3 separate regions of the Homo sapiens genome follow, and regions 1 and 3 are each reported to be linked to region 2. Evidence: microRNA targets listed by miRTarBase, many of them from high-throughput screens and not tested one by one. Region 2 holds a microRNA gene; each other region holds the end of a gene's coding sequence. Distances are between the middles of the regions.

Region 1 (3,109 bases), 76 Mb from region 2:
CTCTTTCTTTCTCTCTATCTCTATATTTGCTCATTCTGGACATTTCATAGAAATTTCATAGAAATGGAATCATGCAATATATGACCTGGCTTCTTTCACTTACCATAATGTTTTCAAGGTTCATCTGTTTTGTAGCATGTATCATCACTGCATTTTTTATTGCCAAATAGTATTCCGTTGTATGGATAGACCCCAATACATTTATCCATTCATCAGTTGCTAGACCTTTGGATTGTTTGCACTGTTTTGCTATTAGGAGTAATTCTGCTGTGATCATCTATGTACAAGTTTTTGTGTGACCATGTTTTAAATTTGGGGGTTATATAACTAAAAGTAGAATTGCTGGGTCATATGGTAACTCTACACTTAACTCTTTGAGAACTGTCAAACTGTTTTCCAAAGTGGCTCTACCATTTTACCATCAGCAATGCCCAAGAATTCCGTTTCTCCATATCCTAACTAATACTTATTATTGTCTATCTTGTTTTATTATAGTCATCCTAGTGGGTGTAAAATGGTATCATGGTGGTTTTGATTTGCATTTTCCTAATGATTAATGATTTTGAGCACTTTTTCTTTTTTATTAGAGACAGGGTCTCACCCTGTCACCCATGCTTGAGTGCAGTGACGTGACGATTGTAGCTCACTGCAGCCTTGAACTCCTGGGCTCTAGCAATCCTCCCACCTCAGTCTCCTGGTAGCTGGGAACACAGGCATGCACCACCACACCTGGCTAATTTTTAAATTTTTTATAGAGATGGGGTCTCACTATGTTGCCCAGGCTGGTCTCGAATTCTTGGGCTCGAGCAATCCTCCCTCCTGGGCCTCCCAAAGTGCTGGGATTACAGGCGTTAGCCATTGCACCTGACCCTTACTTTTTCATTTGTATAGCTTCTTTGGAGAAATGTCTATTTAAATCTTTTGCTTATTTTTAAAATTGAATTGCCTTTCAGTTGTTGAGTTATAAGAATTATTTATCTATTCTGGCTCCTAGACTCTTATGAGATACATGATTTGTAGGTATTTTCTCCCATTCTGTGGGTTGTCTTTTCACTTTCTTAATGGTGTCCTTTGAAGCACAAAAGTGTTTAATTATAATGGAGCCCAACTTATCAATTTTTTATTTTGTTGTTTGTGCTTTTGATGTCATATATAAGAAGCCATTGCCTAATCCAAGATTATGAAGCTTTACACCTATGTTTTCTTCCATGAGTTTAATAGTTTTGACTTTCACTTTAGGTCTTTGATCCATTTGAGTTAATTTTTGTATATGATATGAGGTAAGGTCCAACTTTATTTTTCTGCATGTGGATGTCCAGTTGTTTCAGTATTGTTTGTTGAAGACTATTCTTTCCCACATTGAATTGTCTTGGCACCCTAGGTGAAAATCAATTGACCCTCTGTGTTCTCAATTCCATTCTATTGATATAGAAAGGTTTTTTAAATTAATCAATTATTTTCCCTGAGGCCTAATATAGGACCACTGTGAGTAGAATCCATGCCATTTTTGCCCACACTTATGAACTAATTTTGGTGGAGTGCCATGGGGCCTCATTTAGGAAAATGAAGCTGAAAAGTGGGTCTCCAGAAAATGAGGAATGGGGACATAGAGTGGTGCATTGGAGAGAACTCTGGTTTGAATGCTAGTTCTATCCAAAGTTGTGTGGCTTTGGGCAAGCTACTAACCCTCTAGGAGCTTTAGCTACTGTGAAATGGAGGTGATGACAATCTCAATCTCACTGGGCTTATGTTTAGTATTGAGAGACAATGGTTATGAAAGCAATGTCATGGTCCCTGGAACATAGAAGGGACTTGACATCAAGCAAACTTACAGTTGGTGCATGGTCTTGTGGCTCCCTCCCTTCTGACATAGGATGGTTATGTGGGATCAGGAGAGGTGGGCTACACAGCGGGTACCTGTGCCAGTTCCCATGTTTCTGCTCCTGTCTCTTACACTTTGCAGCAGCTATGGTTCCATTCCCCCACCTTTTCTGTCCGGGGAAGTATGAAGGGTAAATAAAGAAGAGGAAAAGGGCTCTCCATAGAGCAGCTTTCTGGCCAGAAGGGAAAATCTTAGGTTTGAGGGAAGCCCAATAGCGAACCACAGAATAATCAGGAAATAGTGGTATCCTGTTTTATATGTCTAGAACTTTATTTTCAAAGAAGAAACAATGTAACTGCATTGCCAATCTAGAACTCTATCACAACTGACGGAATCCTGTCTGCTTGGACCAGGCAGCTACAGTTCAGGTCCCTGGTTTACCTTGTGGCAGTTCCCAAGTTGTAAGGAAAGGACCAAGAGGAAACAAACTATCCCTGTTCCAAATAAAGCTTCTAAGTCTAAACCTACGTAGTGATGGTGAACTAAGGTTTAGGAGAAAGGGGCACAGTATTCTTTGTGATCAGAGAGTTGGCTGGAATGATTCATAAGACTCCCCAACTGGGTTGTTGCCCTAAAATAACCAGGGGTGATACAGCCAACTCCTCTGGCTAGCCAGCCCTCCCCAGTCCTCCCCTGCCCCTCTGGTTCTTTCCCCTAAGCCTGCCTCAGCCACTTGGGAGAGGACTCTATTGCTAGAACTCTGATTTATTAAATAATTTCTGGCTTGGATGGTCTCCTCTCTCATCCTTACGATCTTTCCCTCTCCTGGAATTCTTCTTTTTCTGTGGCTCTACTTGGATCCCTCATGGCTTTGGGGGTTGATCAATGGGGAATGTGGCTCCTGTTATGTAATTGTCAGCTCTTGGGTCTCAGGGAGGCCATATTCAACTTTGTGTTGGTCAAAGAGCTTGCGCAGGGCACTGATGTAGAGTGCGTGATACTTGTCTACTGTCTTCTGGTTTGGCCTCTTAATCCTGGGAATTGGAAGGGGTTCCCCAACTATGAAAAAAGAAAAGAGACAAACATCAGAGTTCCCCCCTCAACTCAAACTACTCATCCCTCACTGGGAGCCATGTACTGAAACTCAGTATCTGGCTTTCCTCCCCTTCTTTCTTTCTTTCCCTTTGCTCCAGTCTCATCCTGGCCCCTGTTCTCTGATCATCTAATCAAACCCATGCTCAAGAGAATGCAAGCAAGCTCAGGAGAGTGGTGACAGAATGTGTGCGA
Region 2 (3,109 bases):
TTTTTCAGATGATTCCAGAAAGATAACCACCTCCCTTTGTATACTCAATTAAATATTCAATAAATTAATATCCTGCATAAACAGAGTTGTTAAGTCACCAAGAGTTACTTCTAATTGTACAACTGGCCTATCACATCATGAATTTGTATGAACTGTCAGCTCAACATAAGTTTCACAGCCATTTGCTTCATTTAACGTGTCATATCAGACACCAACTTGGTTTTCTTGGAAAGTTTGAATTTGTAAACGGCAATTACCTAGTGTTGATTATTATTATAGAACTGTTAAGAATACCATTTAGGAACTCCTGTGGTAGATTCTCCACATTTTTCCTTCATATATCTTTTTATTAATATCTTTGAACTTCATTAGGCAATAAGCAGTAGAAGAATTTTATCAAAATTCTTTAAAAAAATAGAGTTAGATATGGACAGGCAATGAATTTGAGAGAAATGAACAATATAGGGCTTGCTCATTATTATTGTGAATAAAGCCTGAATTACATAATCCCTTCAATTTTTTGTGTGTGTGCTTTTCAGGGACATTATCTTATGTATGCATGGATATCTGTGAATATATGTATACATATGTATATTTTTAGAGAAATTTAGCTTTTCAACGAGTCTTCACTCAATTATCGCTGGTTGTTTGGAGAAGGTTGTCATTCTTTTTAATCTGTCTTTTTTTCTTCCCAGTATAAACTTATCTTGTAGTTGTCACATTTTACGTATTTCTGGGTTGAGAATCATTGTCTATATTTGTAGAATTGCATTCGGTATAGATAGCCTCATTCAGTATCATAATCAGTGATTTGCAAATTTTGGGAAGTCGGAATTCTTACAATGGATTGGTAGAGCTTTACTACCAGCCCCTTCAAGATTTTCATCCTCCAACTGCAGAACCAGGAAATTATCACTAATACAAATGGGAAAGAAAATATACATGCTGATAGTTACACAGGTTGTGAATAGTAAATTAGTATGTCATTTATTTTAGGTATTCAATGTTGCATAGTCATATTATAATTACGTAGCTTCTTTGTTTTTTTCTAGGTTCCCAAAGAGTCTACAAATGTTGTCTCCTTAATCCTTGCAACGAACCTGAGCCACTGATTCAGTAAAATACTCAGTGGCACATGTTTGTTGTGAGGGTCAAAAGAGATAATCTCTACAGGCCTCATGGACACTGCAAACCATGTAAGTCATCAGTTATGTAGCTACTGCTGCTTCTCCTTCACCTCCTTGTAGTGACACTGGTAGTAGAGTAATCATAGCGGTAGAGACTGTATTACTAGTACTTTGGTAAAAATGACAGCATGTTCAATAAACACCTTTTATTAGGTCAGAGATCAGAGGACAGGTAGCAGCAAGATGAATTTCTTCTTATTTTCTGTTTTTCTGAGGTTAATGTGGATGGTTTCTGTGAGGTTAACGCTGCGTAGCAGTCTTAATGTTGTTCTATGATCACATGATTAGCTGTGATTACTGTGATTATCTCTGCATTTCTGGTTTTTTCCATTTGCAAATGTATGTTCTACACATGTCCTCAATTGCTATGACAAATCAAAACTGTTCTGTGATTATATGGTTATCTGTGATTACTGTGATTATCTCTGCATTTCTGTGTGTCTTTTTCCATTTGCAAATGTACGTTATATACATGTCCTCAATCACTGACAAATCAAAACTTTCGGATATCGTTTCTTTGGGAACAATTTGTTGTAGTTATGGAATGTGGAAATGCATATGAAAATCTGAAGTACATATCTGCCAGGCATGTAGTCATTAAGCAAATTGTCCTGTTAGTACTACTGCAAGCAGTACTAGTACTATAACTAATGGTATCAGTCCTAGTAACACTGCTATTATATTAGTACTAAGAAGGGTATCATCAGTTATCACTCATAGGATTTCATTGGTGGTTTTTCATATACATATTGTAATGTATTCTGCTTTATGATTCAATTTACATATTTTTCTAGAATACCCTGTGGATATCTATGCCCATAGAGATAATTTATTTGCAGTGCAAGCGTTGACGCCACTGCAAACACAGGTAAGGGGAAGTTAATGGTTGAAGATGACAGACTTGATTTTATTCATCCATGATTGCAAATTATAAAATATTATGTCCTTACCTGATCATTTACTTTAATTTGGCATAATTGTTGCATATAAATGGTGAATGGGACATCCTCACCTGGTTCCTGATCTTAGGAGTCAAACATAAAAATGTTAACAATTAAGTCTTCCGTTAGCTGTGCGTTTTCATAGAAGCCCTTCAACCAATTGAGGATATACTCGATTCTATGCCTGATTTGCTGTTATTATTTTTAGATATGGATGTTAGATTTAGTCACATATTTCTCCGCATCAATTGAAATGATCTCTTTTTTTCCATTTTAATCTGTTAATATTGAAAATTGCCAGGCTTTGCCTGGGTTCCCATTCTTTGCACTGGAGTCAATATTCTCTCTCTGAGAAGTTGGCAGGAGAATGGACGGACTGTTCTAATGTGTCCCCTCTCTCACAGATCACTCTACAGTGTCTGAAAGACATGTTTTTCTGTATATATCTGGTTTTTCTTTGTTTTAGACAGCAGATTAATTTGGTCACTATTCCTTCATCTGATCTGGAAACAGTAATCTCCGATTACCAAATGGTAAGAGCCTGGAAATCCTTAGACATGTAGAGGCCTATGTACAAAAAGCTCATAATTTTTACATATTACCTATTCATTACCATCTTACCTCTGATATCGTTCATTATTTTTGAGACCATTCTAGTGAGATGTTTACACCTATAGGATTTTTAAATAGTTTTCAGTAAAGCATTGCTCCACCTAATTCATCTGGTAAGGGCTTTAAGTTGTTAGCCATCCTGAAGTCTCCTCTTGGAAATGTTTGTATGTTTCGGAGATCTGAGTATACAGTTGGGCACTTCTACAGATTCGTCTTTCTTTTTGCTAAGATTCTTGTTTTTCCGTTATTTATTGATAGTTAATACTGATGGTTTGTGAAGTAAGTACTTTGTGTAGTGTCTCTTTGTTCTCTCCCACCCTTACAAATCTAATGGTTTTAATGTTTTAATGACTCTAGATAGACAGTGAT
Region 3 (3,109 bases), not on the chromosome of region 2:
CTGTTCTTCCTCCTCCCGCCTGCCCCATGCACCTCCCACCCTGAAGTTCCCTGCCACCCCTCGCCCTGTGCCAGCTTGTCTCTGCAGGCTCTCAGTCCTGGGGGCTGGAGAACAGGTGCTCAGTCCTCTTTGCTGCCCACAGAAGTCTCAGAACATTCTTGCCCCACCCTCCCTTGGGCCAAAGCCCTTTAGGGTCCCGTCCTTTCATGCTGTGCTCTCCTCCTCCTCCTCCTCCTCCCTGCCTCTCTCCTTGCTCACTGAAGACCTCAGCACCCACTGCCTCCCAGCCTTGCCCTGAACCAAGCACAGACGACCACCACGCTGGCAATGTCTCTGTCCACCAGAGGGGTGATGGGTCAGCCCCCAAGAACCTCCTACGCCACAGGGAGGAGTTGGAATTTTATTCCAAGTGAGGCAAAAACCATGCAAGGTATAGAGCAGGGGAGGCCAAGGCCAGGTGTGGGTTTAATCGGGGTCTGTCGGTGGCAGGGCAGCTGCAGGGAGGCCGTGTTGGTGATGCCTGGGCCAGGGCACAGTGGTAAAGTTTAACCCAGGCTCCCCTGTCTACCCCTGAAAAAGACTGGAAAATGCTGAGTCCCAGCCAAGGGTCCAGGGTCTAGGAGCTGAGGTCAGAGAGGCCCAGGAGGTGGGGGAGGCAGGCCCAGTGAGGTGGCCCTCTCCTGGTCTTGCTGGCTTCGGTTTTCCCAGGGGAGCTCACTGCACCCTGAGCGGCATTGTCCCCCATTGCCCTGACCCTTGCCCCCACCTCCTTGGCTGGTGGAGCCAGGAGCCTGGGAGGCCCCTGTGCACACCTGGCAGCTTCACCTCCCCAAACAGGCCCGGAGTTCATTCAAATCCAGCCTCTGGGAGCAGGGGCCTTGCCACTCGGTTATGTGAGCCTGCTAAAGCCCTCCTTGCCATGTGTGCTTGCAGGCGGGGGCCCAGAACCAAGTTGGGAGGCCACTGGCTGTCCTGTGGGACCAGAGAAGTCTGGTGCCACCCTAGCAGGGCCAAGGGACTTCTTCTGGACGTCAGTCTGTGCCCAGCCTCTACCACCAGCTTTCCCTTCCCTGCAGGGAGGGGCATGACCTGCAGAACCAAAGGTGCTTCTGTGAGCCAGTAGCCCAGTGCTGCTTGGGGGCAGGGGCGGGGCCTGTGCCTTGGGTTCCCCCCCCTCCCTGGGCACATTTGGGGTTGGGGCAGCCCACACGGTGGGGTGGGAAGATTGACCTGCCCATTTTACAAATGAGCAAAGGTGGGAGAACTCAGGGAGACATGGGGGAGCAGAGGGAGGAAGCAGAGCCCAACAGCCCGGGGCACCCGGACCCCAGCCACTGCCTGCCTGTGGATGGGTTTCTGGCCACGGTGCAGGGCTACTGCGAGGAGGAAATGAGGGTGATGTGGGCACCTGAAACAGCAGAAATGGCTCAGGGCCAGGCACTGGGGAGCCACTGTCCCCATGGGGCTTGAGCTTCTGCCTCAGAGGGACCTTCCGGCTGCCATTGAGGGTCCCAGCACCAAACCCCACAGCTGGACCACTTGGGACCTCAATCCACAGGGGGCCAGGGCTGCGGCCTATGGCAGATAAAGATAGAGGAGGAGGGCTGGATGAAGCCACAGGTGGTGGGCACAGGATAGGCCAGACAGAAGGGACTTTGGGGGACTCCACCTTGGGTAGAAGGAGGGACAGCTGAGGTCCTGTGGTGGAGAAGGCCTGGAGCAGAGGGTGACCAAGGAGATGACAGAGTGCACGTACAGGGCCAGGCCAATGGGAGTGGGAACCCTTGGGAGAGGGAGCTTCAGGCCATTCATTCAGTTCCTGTTTAGCCAGCACCCTCCTCCCCTCATCTGTCCCTCTGCCCTCACCCCAACATGCCAGAATCTCCTTCCTCTCCAGCTTGTACCCAAGCCCTCTCTGCTCCATGCCCCCAGCCTGCTGACCACCTCTCAGCCATGTCCTGGGCCTCCAGATCTGTCCCTGATCCTAGTCTTGCCTCTGAGGGGTCCATCATCCTTGTCTGTCCCCCAGACCTCCCACGCCAGCCCCTGCTCCCACCCTGCCTGGCTGCCTCGTGCCTCTGGCCCAGCTGGGTAGGTAGGGATTTGCATAGCTGCTCCCCAGCTCCTCCATACCTCGGCTCCCCACACAGCACTGCTAGGCGCCCCTGCAGGGTCCTCCCTCAGCTCAGAGGCTGCCCTACTGGCTGAGGTGCAGGCTGGTGCCAAGAGAGCATGCTGCTCTGTCAGCATGAGGCAGTGAGCAGGGCTCTGGGCAAGGGTGGCATCCAGGAAAGCCCTTGAAGACTGAGGGGCGCTTTGCTGGTTGGGCCAAGGGAGGAAGGGCCTGCCTGGCAGAAGGAACAGCCTGGGCAAAGGCCCCAAGATGGGAAAGCCTTGGTGGTTGGGGCATAGAATGGGGGGGCAGTGGGGCCGGCCAAGACAGGAAGGGCCTTGAATGTGAGGGTGAAATGATGGGGTGTCCCTGGGGGCCTTACTCCCAACTCAGATCAAGTCCTTTGGTGGCAGGGGCTGCCCCGGTCCTCTGACCCAGGGCAAGCTCTATGAGCGGTGGAGCCCATCCTAGAGATTTTCATAGACCAGGTTAAGTTCGCCATCATCTTCGAATCTATGCGGTCTCTCCTGGATAGAAAAGAAGAAAGGGAGGGAAGGAGAGAAAGAGAGAGAATGACCATTAAGAATGAACTTGCACTAATTTAGTTTTAGCCAGAGGGCAACAGATCACTTCCTGTGTAGCTTTGATGGGGGGCCTGCCCTCTGTCTCCAAGCCCACCTCCCCAGCCTCTTCCCCCACCATGCTGCCCCCACCCCTGCCCATTGCCCTCCAGCCACATGGGCCTGCCCTTCCAGCCTCAGAGCTTCCCCCACAGCTCTGCCCTCTGCCTTCTGCCCTATGTGTGGGATGCGCCTCCTCCCACAGACACACCTGTTCCATGACTGCCCCCTACTCACTCTGCCTGCGGGCTCATCATAGGGTCCCAGGGACCCCCTCCCTCCCTCCCCACCCTGGCTGGTCCCTCCCAGAAGAACACCCCTCACAACAGGGCTACAAATGCCTCTGTGTGTCCATGGGGTCAGCGACCTATTCCTG

The links. Region 2 holds the annotated microRNA hsa-miR-891a-3p (AGUGGCACAUGUUUGUUGUGAG, at 1,128-1,149, shown strand). A microRNA usually pairs through its seed, bases 2 to 8, with sites in the 3' UTR of a target mRNA and lowers its output. Matches are read on the target gene's strand: a 7mer-m8 pairs with bases 2 to 8, a 7mer-A1 pairs with bases 2 to 7 and ends in A, and an 8mer does both.
Region 1: the mRNA of DGAT2L6 is a reported target of hsa-miR-891a-3p. Seed matches in the 3' UTR shown: 7mer-A1 at 2,266-2,272.
Region 3: the mRNA of NFAM1 is a reported target of hsa-miR-891a-3p. The part of its 3' UTR that is shown has no 7-base or 8-base seed match.

What each region holds. Positions count from the first base shown.
Region 1 is chrX:70,204,724-70,207,832 of GRCh38, reverse strand. DGAT2L6 (diacylglycerol O-acyltransferase 2 like 6) reads right to left here. Exons shown (of 7, transcript NM_198512.3): 7 at 2,129-2,881. The coding sequence ends at 2,727. Among named protein-coding and RNA genes, the nearest start is that of AWAT1, 28 kb to the left of the region's middle.
Region 2 is chrX:146,025,844-146,028,952 of GRCh38, reverse strand. MIR891A (microRNA 891a) reads left to right here and starts at 1,081; the gene lies at 1,081-1,159.
Region 3 is chr22:42,382,581-42,385,689 of GRCh38, forward strand. It overlaps NFAM1 (NFAT activating protein with ITAM motif 1), which reads right to left. Exons shown (of 6, transcript NM_145912.8): 6 at 1-2,640. The coding sequence ends at 2,581. Among named protein-coding and RNA genes, the nearest start is that of LINC01315, 15 kb to the left of the region's middle.